Homo sapiens: one gene and its partners. The protein of the gene in region 1 purifies or fractionates together with the protein of each later gene. This does not show direct contact. Each region holds a gene or a part of one and is shown in the gene's direction. Other genes may lie near its edges.

Evidence for each region. The genes of interacting proteins can lie anywhere in the genome.
Region 2: the proteins of SLC25A18 (region 1) and ANGEL1 purify together in Homo sapiens (affinity purification with mass spectrometry; one large-scale study listed by BioGRID and IntAct). This does not show direct contact.
Region 3: the proteins of SLC25A18 (region 1) and CEP164 purify together in Homo sapiens (affinity purification with mass spectrometry; one large-scale study listed by BioGRID and IntAct). This does not show direct contact.
Region 4: the proteins of SLC25A18 (region 1) and DMXL1 purify together in Homo sapiens (affinity purification with mass spectrometry; one large-scale study listed by BioGRID and IntAct). This does not show direct contact.

Annotation. Positions count from the first base shown.
Region 1 is NC_000022.11:17,580,498-17,583,997, forward strand, and holds part of SLC25A18 (mitochondrial glutamate carrier 2), read left to right. Parts: intron 1-539; coding exon 540-662; intron 663-836; exon of another isoform or gene 837-860; coding exon 861-916; exon of another isoform or gene 917-1,051; intron 1,052-2,065; coding exon 2,066-2,156; intron 2,157-2,918; coding exon 2,919-3,037; intron 3,038-3,500. UniProt on the Homo sapiens protein: Responsible for the transport of glutamate from the cytosol into the mitochondrial matrix with the concomitant import of a proton (symport system).
Region 2 is NC_000014.9:76,792,383-76,795,882, reverse strand, and holds part of ANGEL1 (protein angel homolog 1), read left to right. Parts: intron 1-3,500.
Region 3 is NC_000011.10:117,330,854-117,334,353, forward strand, and holds part of CEP164 (centrosomal protein of 164 kDa), read left to right. Parts: intron 1-3,500. UniProt on the Homo sapiens protein: Plays a role in microtubule organization and/or maintenance for the formation of primary cilia (PC), a microtubule-based structure that protrudes from the surface of epithelial cells. Plays a critical role in G2/M checkpoint and nuclear divisions.
Region 4 is NC_000005.10:119,069,728-119,073,886, forward strand, and holds the start of DMXL1 (dmX-like protein 1), read left to right. Parts: upstream 1-1,359; 5' UTR 1,360-1,842; coding exon 1,843-1,929; intron 1,930-4,159.

The DNA of each region.
Region 1 (3,500 bases):
GAAGCCTTCACTGTGGGAAGTGCCTGCTCTCTTATTATGAACAATAGCTGGCATTCCCCCCCAGGCACGGTTTCCATAGTCCTCAGCAACCCTGGAGTGAGTTCGACGGGAATGCAGGCCCAGAGAGGAGAGGTCACAGTCAGGATGCAAACTCAGTTCTGCCTGACCTTCAGTCCGTTTGTGTGAGAACTGCACACGTGGCTCCAGGCCTGCGGAGGAGCCAGAGGACGGGCCGGGGAAGCTTGGGGCAGAGCGGTGCCCTGGTGGCGGCCCATGGGGGCAGAGCTGGGCTCCTCCCAGAAGCCCCTGCAGGTCCCAGCTCCAGGGACTTCCCGGGTTGCAGCAAGATGCCTCACCCGGGTGAGTGCGGCTGTCCTGTCTGGACCAGACCTGGGCCAGGGAGGCTGAAGAGGGTCTCTGGACACCTGTGGGGCTGGGGTTCCCCACTGTCTGTGCCCCTGCCCATTCCTGGCTGCATCCGCTCCCTAACCTGCCCCTCCCTCTGCCTCTCTCCTCCCCCTGTCCTCCCCCTGTCCTAGCATCACAGCCAAACTCATCAATGGAGGTGTAGCAGGGCTCGTGGGGGTGACCTGCGTGTTCCCCATCGACTTGGCCAAGACTCGCCTGCAGAACCAGCATGGGAAAGCCATGTACAAAGGAATGTAGGTGCTGGCAGGCGAGCGTGGAGGGCAGAGGCGCCCGGGGGAGGGATGGGGCCCCCTTCCCTCCAGTCTCCAGGCAGCGCGCGTGAGCCTGGGGGCTGGGGATCTGATCAGCTGGGATGTGCCCGCGGGAGCAGGGCATGGAGGCGGCTGGGAGGCCCGCTGCACACTTACTCCTACTCTGGCCTCTGCTTCCAGGATCGACTGCCTGATGAAGACGGCTCGGGCGGAGGGCTTCTTCGGCATGTACCGAGGTGGGCTTCTCAGGTCCCCTGGGAGGCTGGGCAGCAGGTGTGAGCGTATGGGACATGGGGAACTGGTGTTCCTTCCGTTGCTGCGGGGATGGGGCCAGGGCTGCCAGGGGGTCCTTCCTGATGAGCCTCTGTGCTCTTGGGTGGAGACAGAGGCAGCTCTGGGTCCTGGTAAGGCTTCCGGAGACCCACAGAGCACACCCCCCGCCACCGCCTCAGTAAGAGCAGGCGAGCCCTCCCTACCTGCCTGCCTCTCTCTGCCTGGCTAGAAGCGAAGAGAGAGAGGCTGAAAGGGACTGAGGGACGGGGCCTGAGCTCCTGGCAAGGAGTTCTGGGTGGCTCCTCCCCAGCTCGGTCCAGCGTTGCTGCGGTCCCTGCGGGGTCCCCAGCCAGGAGGTACCTTGGACAATGGATCCCAAGCTGGAGTTGAGCCGGAGCTCGTATGCTTGTGCCGCCGAGAAGCAAAACACAAACCCTAGACAGCCCCGAGCTAGCAGCCAATGGGACTGGCTTGTGCGGCACAGAGGAGCGGAACCCCAGTCCCTGCGCCTGGCGCCTGTCACTGGAACTGCTGTTTTATCATCAGCGACCCCACCAGCAGCAACAAAAATAAAATGGCTTCCTGATAACCAAACTGAGGAGTCCGTAAGAAAAAAATACGTAAAAAGGGGAGAATGTGGGGCCGGGCGCGGTGGCTCACGCCTGTAATCCCAGCACTTTGGGAGGCCGAGGCGGGCGGATCACGAGGTCAGGAGATCGAGACCATCCTGGCTAACACGGTGAAACCCCGTCTCTACTAAAAAATACAAAAAAAATTTAGCCGGGCGTGGTGGCGGGCGCCTGTAGTCCCAGCTACTAGGGAGGCCGAGGCAGGAGAATGGCGCGAACCCGGGAGGCGGAGCTTTCAGTGCGCCGAGATCGCGCCACTGCACTCCAGCCTGGGCGACAGAGCGAGACTCCATCTAAAAAAAAAGGAGAATGTGGTAGGGAGTGGGAATGGAAAGTTATTTCAGTGAATTAGGCTCAGGAGCCCCACCTGGCCCCAAAAATGCCCTTCACTCAGGGACTGGCCTGGCTAGGGCTGAAGGGCAGACCTGGGGCACTGTTATTTCTGGGATGGCCTTGACTCCCCATCTTGTCCTTCACTTCCAGGGGCTGCAGTGAACCTCACTCTGGTCACTCCAGAGAAGGCCATCAAGCTGGCGGCCAACGACTTTTTCCGGCGGCTGCTCATGGAAGATGGGTATGGCCAGGTGGGGTGGGGTTGGATCCTTCACTGTGTGTTTTTTGGGAGAGATGGCAGGAAGAAGATTTCAAATGTGCCTCAGTATACCTGCCTGCATGCATATAAATATGTGCACACATGGCTGAGGGCTGGTGTGTGTTTGGGCTGCTGGAGAGTGAAGGGAGAGAATGAGCTGGTATACTTTGGAAGTGTGACAGATAATATAGAGAACATATAGCATATACAGACAAATCCATCAACTAGCCAATAAATTTTTAAAAATCAGCCACCAAGCTGGCTGCAGTGGCTCATGCCTGTAATCCCAGCACTTTAGGAGGTTGAGGAAGGAGGATCGCTTGGGCCCAGGCGGTCGAGGTTGCAGTGAGCCATGTTGGCTCCACTGCACTTCGGCGTGGGTCACAGAGCGAGACCTCGTCTCAGGAAAAACAAATCAGCCCCCAAACACTTTCTAGCTCTCTCTGTGCCTCACATTGCCCAGTGATGTTCCTGAAGGGATCAAGGACAACGCCTGGTCTGGGTAGTTTTCTCTGTCACTGTTTTCAGCTTCCATGCGGTGCTACCTCCCTAGCAGGCTTTGTTTTAAACTTAGTCCCCTGTCCGTACAGAGACCACACCTAAGGGCTAGCTGATGACTTGACCAGCTGGGTGAGTGGCAGCCACGGGTGCCATCCAGGGAAAGTCCCCCTCTCACAAGAGGGCAGCTGCACCAGGGCAGGCCTGTGGCCTGCGGCTGAAGGAGCCTGACGCCTGTTCCCATAGGATGCAGCGGAACCTGAAGATGGAGATGCTTGCCGGGTGTGGGGCTGGGATGTGCCAGGTCGTGGTGACCTGTCCCATGGAAATGCTCAAGATTCAGCTGCAGGATGCTGGACGCCTGGGTGAGGCCTGTCCCCACCTCCTATGGGAACAGTAAAGGGCTGGGATTGGAACCAGGCACATCCCACATCCCAACCTCATTTGCTAGGCTGTGTGACCAGTCAACTTTCCAAGCAGGTAGAAGTTTTTGGCCAGGCATGGTGGCTCATGCCTGTAATCCCAGCACTTTGGGAGGCCGAGGCAGGTGGATCATTTGAGGTCAGGAGTTCGAGACCAGCCTGCCCAACATGGTAAAACCCCATCTCTTCTAAAGATACAAAAATTAGCCGGGCGTGGTGGTGCATGCCTATAATCCCAGCTACTCGGGAGGCTGAGGCAGGAGAATCACTTGAGCCTGGGAGGCAGAGGTTGCTGTGAGCTGAGATTGCACCACTGCACTCCAGCCTGGGCAACAGAGTGAGACTCTGTCTCAAAAAAAAAAAAGTCTTCATTTATGGTTACCCATTTCATCAATGCTGCCAGCTC
Region 2 (3,500 bases), on another chromosome or scaffold:
TGATTAAAGAAGCTCATTAGCTAACCTATGTAAGTGGGAAAAGAGCAGGAACAAGCATCCAGATGCAGCGGAATCAAGAATCACAAGGGTTTTTTGTTGTTTTTGCTCAACTAAGTGCAAAAGAAATGGAAAATTTGGATGGCATATAAATGTAATTTACTAAAACTGATTCCCATGGAGATTGTCTAAATAGACTAATGACCATGGGGTGAAAAGTAATAGGAAAAGTTCTCAGAGATACAGTCCCTCAGAAACACCAGGCTCAGATTGATAGGGAATGTCCTCAAACCTTTAAAAAACATATATTTCCATTATTGTTTAAATTGTTACAAAGCACAGAGAGAGAAAGGGGCCAGGTTATTTTTATGAAACAAGTATAATATTGACACTGACACCTGACAGTAAACACACAGAAAGAGAGAACTGCAGACTCTAATGTTCTCCACCTGTGAATATTGATGCAAAAAATTTTACATAGAAGATCAGGAAACAAAATCTAGCAGCATATTGAAAGACCAATATACCATAGACCAACTGAAGTTTAGTAGAAGTATAGGGATAGTTCAATATTGGGATATCTATTAATATAATTTTATATATATGTGAAATCTAAAATACATGAAACTTGTGCCATCCTCTGTATAGATGTTGAAGAGACATCTGTTAACATTCAACATCTATTCTTGATTCTTTTAAAATGAACCCTCTTAAGAAAAAAATGGATAATTTCCTACACCATTGAAATGTATTTATTTCAACTCCAAACAGCATCTTGATTAAAGAAAAAAACTCTAATAGCATTCCTGTTAAAGTTAGGAACAAGACAAGGACAAGACTATCATAATTTAACTGTGTTTGGAGATACCAGCCAACAGAATTAGAAGTAGAAAATAGAAATATAGCAAAATAGAAGGATAAAAATGGAAAGGAGGGGGTAAATTATTACTTGCTGATGATATTATTTTATAACTGGTAATCCAAGAGAATAAACTAAGCAGCATTAAGCATTAAGATAATTCTGGAAGGTAGATAGGTACAAAATTAATGTGCAGAACTTAGTAGTGTTCCTATATAGAAATACATGTTTATTAAAAGATATAATGAAAAAAATACACTGTGTAAGAGCAACAAAAAGAAAAAATATAGAAATAAATCTAACAGGAAGAATATAAGGCATATAAAAGGGCATTCCTTTCTTTTTTTTTTTTTTTTGAGATGGAGTCTCGCTCCGTTGCCCACGCTGGAGTGCAGTGGCATGATCTCGGCTCACTGCAACCTCTGCCTCCCATGTTCAAGCGATTCTTCTGCCTCAGCCTCCCGAGTAGCTGGGATTACAGGCACCCACCACCACGCCTGGCTGATTTTTTGTATTTTTAGTAGAGACGGGGTTTCACTGTATTAGCCAGGATGGTCTCGATCTCCTGACCTCATGATGCGTCCGCCCCAGCCTTCCAAAGTGCTGGGATTACAGGCGTGAGCCACTGCGCCTGGCCTAAAGGGGTATTTCATTTCATCTAAATTATCAGATATATTGGCGTGAAGTTGTTCGTAACATTCCCATATCCTTTTTTTTGAACAGCTTTATTGAGATGAAATTCACATGTCATAAAATCCACCCATTTTAAGTGTATAATTAATTGGCTTTTAGTATATTCCGGGTTGTGTGACCATCACCATGATCTAATTTTAGAACATTTTCATCACCCACAAACGAAACCTTACACCCATGAGTCACTTTCCATTTACTTCTCCCCTTGTCAAAAATCAATTGACCATAGATGTATGGATTTCTGGACTCTCAGTTCTGTTCCCTTCCTGTCTGTATCTGTCCTTATGCCAGAACCACACTGTCTTGGTTACTATAGTTTTGTATATAGTAGTCCGCCTTCTCAGTGATTTTGCCTTCTTTGGTTTCAGTTACCCCTGGTCAACTGAGGTTCAAAAACCTTAAGATACTTTGAGGGAGAGAGCGACCACATTCACATACCTTATTACAATATATTGTTATAATTTTTCTATTTTATTATTATTGTTAATCTTTTACTGTACATAATTTATAAAGTCAGCTTTATCATAGGTATGTTTAGGAAAAAAACAGTATATTTAGGATTTGGTAGTATCCATTGTTTCAGGCATCCGCTGGGGGACTCGGTATGTATCCCCCATGGATAAGATAGATTACTGTACTTTTGAAATAAGGACGAGTAAGTCCTCTGACTTTGTTGTTTTTAAGATGATTTTTGTCTCTTCTGGGTCTCTTGCATTCCCGTATGAAATTTAGGATCATCATATCCGTGTCTGCAAAAAAAGACAAAAAAAAAAAAACCAAAAAAACCAACCAGTTGGGATTTTGATAGGCATCTACAAATCTTTCCTTTCCTTTTTTCCTCCTCCTTTTTCTCCTCCTCTCCCCTTTCCTCCCTCTTCTTCCTTCTCCTCCCCTCCTCCTCCTCCTCCCCTCTCCTCTTTCCTTTTATCCCCTCTCCCCTCCTCTCCCCTCTCCTCTTTCCCCTCTCCTCTTTCTCCTCTCCTCTTTCCCGTCTCCCCTTTCCTTTCCTTCTTTCCTTTCTGTGACAAGGACTCAGTCTGTTGCCTAGGGAAGTATTGCCATTTTAACAATATTGTCTTATGGCCAATGAACATGGGCTGGTTTTCCTTATTTAGATCTTTAGTTTCTTTCCAAGTTTTGTAATTTTTAGTGTGCCTACACTTTTTATTAAATTTTTCCTAATTATTTCATTTTTGATGCTATTGTAGATGGAATTTTCTTTATTTCATATTTGGATTGTTCATTGCTAGTGTATAGAAGTATTTTTGTGTATTGATCGTGTACCTGCAATCTTGCTGAATTCATTTATTAGTTCTAATAGTTTCTTAGTGGATTTCTTAGGATTTTCTCTATATAAGATCATGTCATCTTACAAATAGAAATAGTATTCCTTCTACTCCAATCTGGATACCTTTTATTTCTTTTTCTTTCATAATTACTCTGACTAAAACTTTTGGTACAATGTCAAATAGAAGAGGTGAGAACAGACACCCTTTCCTTGTTCCTGATCTTAGGGGTAAAGCGTTCAGTCTTTCACCATTAAGTATGATATTAGCTGTGAGTTTTTCATAGATTCTCTTTATCAGATTGAGAAAGTTTTCTTCTATTCCTAGTTTTTTGAGTGTTTTTAACTCATGAAAGGGTGTTGGAGTGTGTCAAATGTTTTTCTTCTGTCTGTTTAGATAATCATGTGGCTTTTTTTTAAACTTAAGTATTCTATTGCGACATATCACATTATATGATTTTTCAGATGTTAAACCATGCTTACATTCCTAGGATAAATCTTATTTGGTCATAGTATATAATTTTATATTTTGCTGGATTTGGTTTGCTGATATTTTATTGAGGAATTTTGCATCTGTATTCATAAGGGATATTGGTCTATAGTTTTTGTTGTGACATTTTATCTAGTTTTGATGTCAGAGTAATGCCTCATAGAATGAGTTGAGAA
Region 3 (3,500 bases), on another chromosome or scaffold:
CAACACATTGTGATGGATATTGTTAGTACTCTCATTTTATAGATGAGAAAACTGAGGCTGTCCAGCTAGTAAGAGGCAGAGCTGGGATTGAAAGCCAAGAATGTTCCAAAGCTTTTGCTCATTACCACTGCGTAATCAACTCTGACATCTTCCACCTTCTCCCCTTTACCTTCTCCAGTCAATCTTTTCTGTGGTCAACCTTCTTTGTAATTGTTGGAGCAGGGTGGAAGAAATAAATATACAGAGAACCCTCATTATGTCTGTGAGTGTATATTCTCTGTTAGTGTGCAGATGTGCAAAACTCTAGCTATGCTGACAAAGTACAGGGCAAGGTAGCCACAATATTGAAGGACTGGGAAACGATATGTACTGAATGGAAGAGAACTGGGAATACTTAGCCTACCTTAGCTAGAGAATCCTAGGGTGTCCCCAGATGAGCAGAAGGCAGACTTGAGATACCAGGGAACATTTTTTTAGAACCTGATTATTGGCTTACTATTAGACCTTCTAATAGTTAAGAATTATCTAACTATGGAATTGAAAATAGAATCTGTAATACTAGCTAAATTTGTGTAACTTTTCTGTATACAGGGACTGTGCTAGGCACTTTATAAGTGTTGTTTCATTTTACTTTCAGGCTTTTTGATTTTTGTTAAGATTGTTTTAATTATACACATGCAGTTATTGAGGCTGAGAGAGGTGAAGCACCTTGCCTAAGGTCATACAGCTGCTAAGTGAGAGAGCTGGGATTTGAATCCAGGTCTTCTGTCTCCAAAGCTGGTACTTTGACCACTATGCCGCCTGTCACTGGAAGCACAGAGAGGAAAATTTTGGCATGGGAAGGAAGGTGGACCAAAACTACTGCGGGTCTTCCTAGCTTCTGAGATTGCTGGTGTATTTTTTTTTTTTTTCAGATAGGGTCTCACTCTGTTGCCCAGGCTGGAGTATGGTGGTACAATCATAGCTCACTGCAGCCTCGAACTCCTGGTCTCAAGTGATCCTCCCACCTCTGCCTCCCCACTTTACACTCTTTATGTAACTCTGTCTTCCTTTCCATCTGATCACATAGCTCCTGCCTCAGCCTTCCGAGTAGCTGGGACCACAGGTGCACGCCACCATGCCTGGCTAATATATATATATATATATATATTTGTGGAGACAGGGTCTTACTATATTGCTCAGGCTGGTCTTGAGCTTCTAGGCTCAAGTGATCCTAGGCCTTGGTCCCCCATAGTATTGGGATTACCGGTGTGAGCCACAACACCCGGCCTATTCCTTGGTTTTATATTAGCAGTTACAGCAGTAACTGAGCTCCGACAGCTTACATAGGCTTATTTTAGGCTTTGTTGGAAAATTCCAGAGGAGGAGACATGGCCCTCAGAAGTTTGTGGTTTAACAGGAGAGGTAAGAAGACACATTTTCATAAAAAAAGTAATATTGGCCAGGCACGGTGGCTCACGCCTGTAATCCCAGCACTTTGGGAGGCCGAGGCGGGTGGATCACCTGAGGATAGGAGGTCGAGACCAGCCTGACCAACATGGAGAAACTGCATCTCCACTAAAAAAATACAGAATTAGCCAGGCGTGGTGGCACATACCTGTAATCCCAGCTACTCAGGAGGCTGAGGCAGGAGAATCGCTTGAACCCAGGAGGCGGAGGTTGCAGTGAGCCGAGATCGCACCATTGCACTCCAGCCTGGGCAACAAGAGCGAAACTCCTCTGTCTCAAAAAGAAAGAAAGAAAAAATAATAATATTGAGAGAAATCTGTCTGGGAACACATGAAAATTATGAGCTCAGTGCTAAGGTGGTTCTGGGTTGACAGGAGAGGATAAAATTGGCTGGGAAGGCTTCCTGGAGGAAACGTGTGAGCCACTCCTTTTTTGCCTGATTCTGAGATTGGTAGGAGATGCATGAGTGCAGTTGGGTGACCCCTCCTAACTCTGGCTCACAGAAGGTCTCAGGCTAGGCAGCAAGTAGATCTCACTGGATTTCATCTCATCTATTGGTAACTGCTACGTAGTGAACAATGTTGAGGGTTCTGAGGCCATGTCTAGGGTGCCATAATTGACTAGTGATGTCCTTCACAGTTTTAGGCCTGGAGGAAAATAGTAGGACATGTCCTATTTGTTTGCCATGGCAGATCTAAGGGCTGCATTCTCATTTATTGATTTATTTTAGAGACAGGTCTTGCCCTGTCACCCAGGCTGGAGTGCAGTGGTGTTATCATAGCTCACTGTAGCCTTGAACTCCTGGGCTCAAGGGATCCTCCCACCTGAGCCCCCCAAGTAGCTGGGACTACAGGTGTGTGTCACCATGCATGGCTGATATTTTTAATTTTTTGTAGAGACGGTCTCACTATGTTGACCCAGCTAGTCTCAAACTCCTGGCTTCAAGTGATCCTCCTGCTTTAGCCTCCCAAAGCCCTGTTATTACAGGTGTGAGCCACAGTGCTTGGCCCAAGGGCTGCATTCTTAGACTTCTCATCCTCTGTTACCACTCCAACTCAGGTTACCATTGCCTCTTACCTAGCCTAGCTCATGGTTTTCTACCTTATTTCTCTGCATCAGCCCTGATTTTCTTCTTTCCAATCTGGCCTCCGCTTTAGGGTGTACTCCTAGTAGCTTCTGGAGTAGTTTTTCAAAATGTGTATCTGGAAAAACTATTTCCTGGCTTCCATTCCTCTCTCTTTTTTGAGACAGGGTCTTGCTCTGTCACTGAGCCTGGAGTGTGGTGGCACAATCAAGGCTCACTGCAGCCTTGACCACCTGGGCTCAAGTGATCCTCCCGCCTCAGTCTCCCCTGTAGCTGGGACTACAGGTATACACCACCATACCTGGCTAATTTTTAATTTTTTTTGTACAGGGTAAGACAGGGTCGTCTTATGTTGCTCACGGTGGTCTTGAACTCCTGGGCTCAAGCGATCCTCCTGCTTTGGCCTCCCAAAGTGCTGAGATTGCAGGTGTGAGCCACTGTGCCCAGCCCTAGTTCTGTTATGATAAAGGGCAAGTCTGCATGGCCTGGCTCCCACTGGCCTCCCCAGCATCCTATCCAACTGTGCTGCTTCTTGCCTCGTGTTGCCTTCTGCTGAAGGACTTTTGCATGCATCTGTTAGAACACGCTTTCCTTTTTTTCTTTGTCTAGTGAATACCTACTCATCATTCAGTTCTCAGTGTAGGCATCATCTAAATCAGGCTTATTTCCTTCAGAGCACTTCCCTCGGTTCTAATTATACATTTCTCTGTGACTGATTGGTTTGTCTCCCTCCCTTCCCAGACGAGCTCAAGAGTAGCAGCAGCTGAATCTGTTTTTAATCACGATTGCATCTCTAGCGCCTAGAAATAAATGCACGTGGTAGGTGCCCAATAAATATTCCTCGAGTGAGTAGATGATCTTTAGTAGCCATCCTGCTACTACATACAGACAAATAGATATGACTTCTGTTCCCACGTTCCTTTTTTCTTTAACTCATTGGCCTTTTGGACCTGTCCTTGCCCACATC
Region 4 (4,159 bases), on another chromosome or scaffold:
ATTTTTTAATTTTTAGTAGAAACTGGGTTTCACAATGTTAGCCAGGCTGGTCTCGAACTCCCAACCTCAGGTGATCCCCCCGCCCCCACCTCGACTTACCAAAGTGCTGGGATTACAGGCGTGAGCCATCGTGCCTGGCCTATTGGAGAGTTTTGAGGGTTGTTTGTTTTGAGACGGGATCTCACTCTGTCACCCAGGCTGGAGTGCAACGGGGGTCTTGGCTCACTACAACCTCTGCCTCCCGGGTTCAAGTGATTCTCCTGCCTCAACCTCCCGAGTAGCTGGGATTACAGGTGGGAGCCACCACGCCCGGCTAATTTTTGTATTTTTAGTAGAGAAGGGGGTTTCACTATGTTGGCCAGGCTGGTCTCGAACTCCTGACCTCGTGATTCACCCTCCTCGGCCTCCCAAAGTTCTGGAATAATAGGCGTGAGTCACCGTGCCTGGCCTATTTGGAGAGTTTCTATACACATTCATGCAACATTTACAGAACACCCTGAATGGGTGGGACTGGTGCGGTGCTAGACATTAAGGACAGACTTGTGTCCTGTTCCTCTGTATTCCAAAGAGGCTTACGGTATACAGGGGGAGACATATAAACAGATGTTTGTCAATTATAATACAAAACTTGTGTCAAAATACAATGAGAGTTGAATCTCAGTTTGTAGCTGTGACTCTGATCATTCTGGAATTCCTAGGTTCTTTTCCAAAACAAACGCTCAATGCAGGGCTGGTGTGTTGTTATTACCAGCACTATTTCAAATCACGTGTTAAGATAACTTAGGCTAAGAAAATACCACTTTCCTACTTGTCAAGTGTTCGAGCCTTTCAAAAACCATCCCGTTTAGGGACTTGGAAACACGCGCAAGGCTGGAGAAACCATTAAGCTGCTAACGTAGACGTTTCAAGGGTCACATTTACTCAAGAGACACTCAGGTCGCCCGGGGGAGCGGTGCATATTGGGACTTGTAGTCCTACCAGAACCGAGGAAACTGCAACTCCCTTTAGGATGCACTTCTCCCCTTTAAATTTTCTGGCCCAACAGTTAGATGACGCCCTAACCTAAAGCACAACTTACCACATCTCACTCATTCTGGGTTCATCAGGCTTCTGCCAGGCTTATCAGGTTCAAGCTCAAACGCACGGCGTTCTCCTGTAGAAGCCTCAAAGAGATTGGCTTATTCTCGGTGGTGGGCGGAGCCCTAGGTGGACCGGGGGTCGGGATTGGCCAGTTTCTGACTAGAAGAGGCGTTTTTATGTTCACTTGCTGATACGCACGCTGTGGTAAAAAAGTGAATTCTTTACCACAGTAGCAGCTGCCCCGAGCGAAGTCTCGCGATATTTCGGCCGCAGGGATCCAGAGGCGCGTAGTGAGTGGCGGAGGACTGTGGGGGTGGCGGGCACCGGAGCCGGGAAGGGACAGGTCAGGCGGGGAGTGCGAGCGCGTACTGCTTGCGCCACTCGGGCTGGGTCAGGAGCGGCTGCCCGAGGTCCAGAGGAAGTGTGTGGACAGCGCGGCCTTCCTGGCCGGTGAGTCGGCCCCGGGTCGTGGCCGGTGAGGGGACCCTGAGCTTCACCTGGGCTAGCGCGGGGAGTGACAGGTGCGCGAAGGAGCGCGGCGCTCCGCCCTCTCGCCGACCCGCCCCCTCCGGGCCTCGCCCTCCGGGGCTCGGGATGAGTCGCGGGCCCCAGCTGAGCGGCTCCGGCTCCAGGCGCCTGTCGCTGCTTCTGCCGTCGCCACCGAAGAGCGGCCGCCGCCCCTGAGGGAAGGAGGGAGGGAAGCAGCCGCTGACCCGTGGCATGAGCTGGATGCGGTGTCCGTTGCAGGACTAGGGCGCCGACATGAACCTGCACCAGGTGCTGACCGGGGCTGTGAACCCTGGCGACCACTGCTTCTCCGTGGGCAGCATTGGCGACCAGCGCTTCACGGTGAGTGAGGGAGGCCCTCGCGTCGCCCGTGGCCCGGCCTTTGCCCGTCATTCTGGGCCGAGCTTGGCCCAGAACGACGGGCAGAGGCGCGAGGTCTTGTCTCCCCAGGGGGGTCCTTACCACCCAGAACCCAGCAGACCTGGCCCTTGAGAACTAAGGAAGCAAAACCATGTCGGTCAGTGAGGTACTGTATGGAGCCTGAACTCAAGTTAGAATATTTTGTAGGATTTTTAAAGTTTTTGGTCTGTCTGCCTTGGGCCAGGGTGCTTTGCCAAAGTCGTTTGTTCAAAAATCTTTGTTGAGTAACGAGTTGGGGGCTTTTTTATACCATTCTATAGGTTCAAATTGTCAAATTTAGGAATAGTGGAGATTGGTTTCATTTTGTATTCTAAGTTAAGGTCAAGTATCTTTGTAGTTAAAAAGTGGGTGTCTCAAAACAATTACCAATTGTTTGCCATCAACAACTAGCCTTGAGAACAGTGTTTTTCATTTATTTTCTTTTCTAATTCCCTGAGAAATAACTTCGGAAAGAAAAAAAAGCCTTTTCATTTTTAAAAATATTTCTTGGATATTTTACAATAACCTGGTAATCCCAGGTTAAGGTTGCTTAACTTGCTTTTCATTGGTCACATATTGACAAGAAGAGGGCACCAAATTTCGGGCTACTTGTCAGTATAGTGGCATTTTTCTACCTTAACTATAGGTTTTTTTTTAATAACAATTTCAAAATATAAGTCAGTAATTGCACATGATACTTTTATCTACATAAATTTATAATGCTAATGATTTTTGCTACAATTTGTGTAGATACCTCTTTAGTTGTGATTAAAAGTAAAACTTGTCACTGCCTGGGAATACTAAGTGCTGTAGGCTTTTTTCTTTAAAAAAAATAAAAGTAAAACTTAATTTTGTATAAGTGACACAAAGTAAACAACGTAACCAATGCCCCAGGTTTAGGAGTGTTAAATTTCTAATCTTTTTCTCTGCTTTTAATTTTTCTGTGGTCTTTGTTGGTCAGAATAAATAATACTCAGCATTTAAAATGGTGGAGGCATTTAATGCCTGAATTGTACTTTTAGAATTGTGCCAAGAAGCATTTTGTTTTCAAATAGAGACTGTACCTCCCCTTTAGATTGACTCATACACATCTTAATTATCGGGATTCCAATTCTAAATGTTTGCCCAGCCTGAATACTTGGGAAAAGAGTGAGCTCTGAGGGTCCCAGTGAGCAACTATAGTTTCCTTACACCTGGGCATTGCTCTCTGCTCTTGCTGCTTGAGAGGAAAGTAAACATCATCCTTAGAAGGTTTTCCTAGTGGGAAATTATAGGATAATATTGTTGCATTCTCTGTCATTTCCTAAATTTATATGAGTGCTTTCTCCAGTGTAAATTCTAAGAACTTTTGCTTTTTAAAAACTTTTGAAATGAGGTCTCCCTCTGTCACCTAGGCTGGAGTGCAGTGGCGGGATCACAGCTCACTGCAGCCTCGACCTCCCCGGCACAAGCCGTCCTTCCACCTTAGGCTCCTGAGGAGCTAGGACTACAGATTCTAATCACCACGGCTGGCTAAGTTTTCTATTTTTTGTAGAGAGGGGTCTCCTTATGTTGCCCAGGCTGGTCTTGACTTCCTGGGCTCAAGTGATCCTCCCACTTCAGCCTCCCAAAATGCTAGGATTAGAGGCGTGAGCCACCATGCCCAGCCCTAAGAATTTTTTCTAAGAAGGCATTCACAATCTATGTAAGCAGTGGTGTGAACTTCAAAGCATATGCAGTATGATGGCCTATTTATATACCTGGATGCATTCCTCTATAAAACCTTGGTGAATGTCTGTGTATTGTTTTTAAGGAGAGATCAGTTAATGTGCCGAGGAGGATTAGATAGATGGTCATCCTGTACCATCATGTAGCTTGTTGCTCAGTTCTGCTGAATTTTAAAGTTCATTTCCATTGAGTAGGATTTAATCTCCCACCAAGCCTACTGCAGATTTCTTCCAGGTCTCTGGAAGCATTCAGTAAATAAACTAAAAATAAATTTTTAAGTATAAAGAGAGTTCAGCTCTCTTTAGTTTTGATGGAATTTTAAGGATTTAACAGTCATGGTTTTCCTTTGCAGCCTGTTCATCCTTGACTCTTTAAGTTGCTTACGCTCATTATCCTGGACACTTATATACACCTTAAATTTTTCTCTCTTGAAATCGCCCTTTTTTCTTCTCTCATGTTAAAAGGC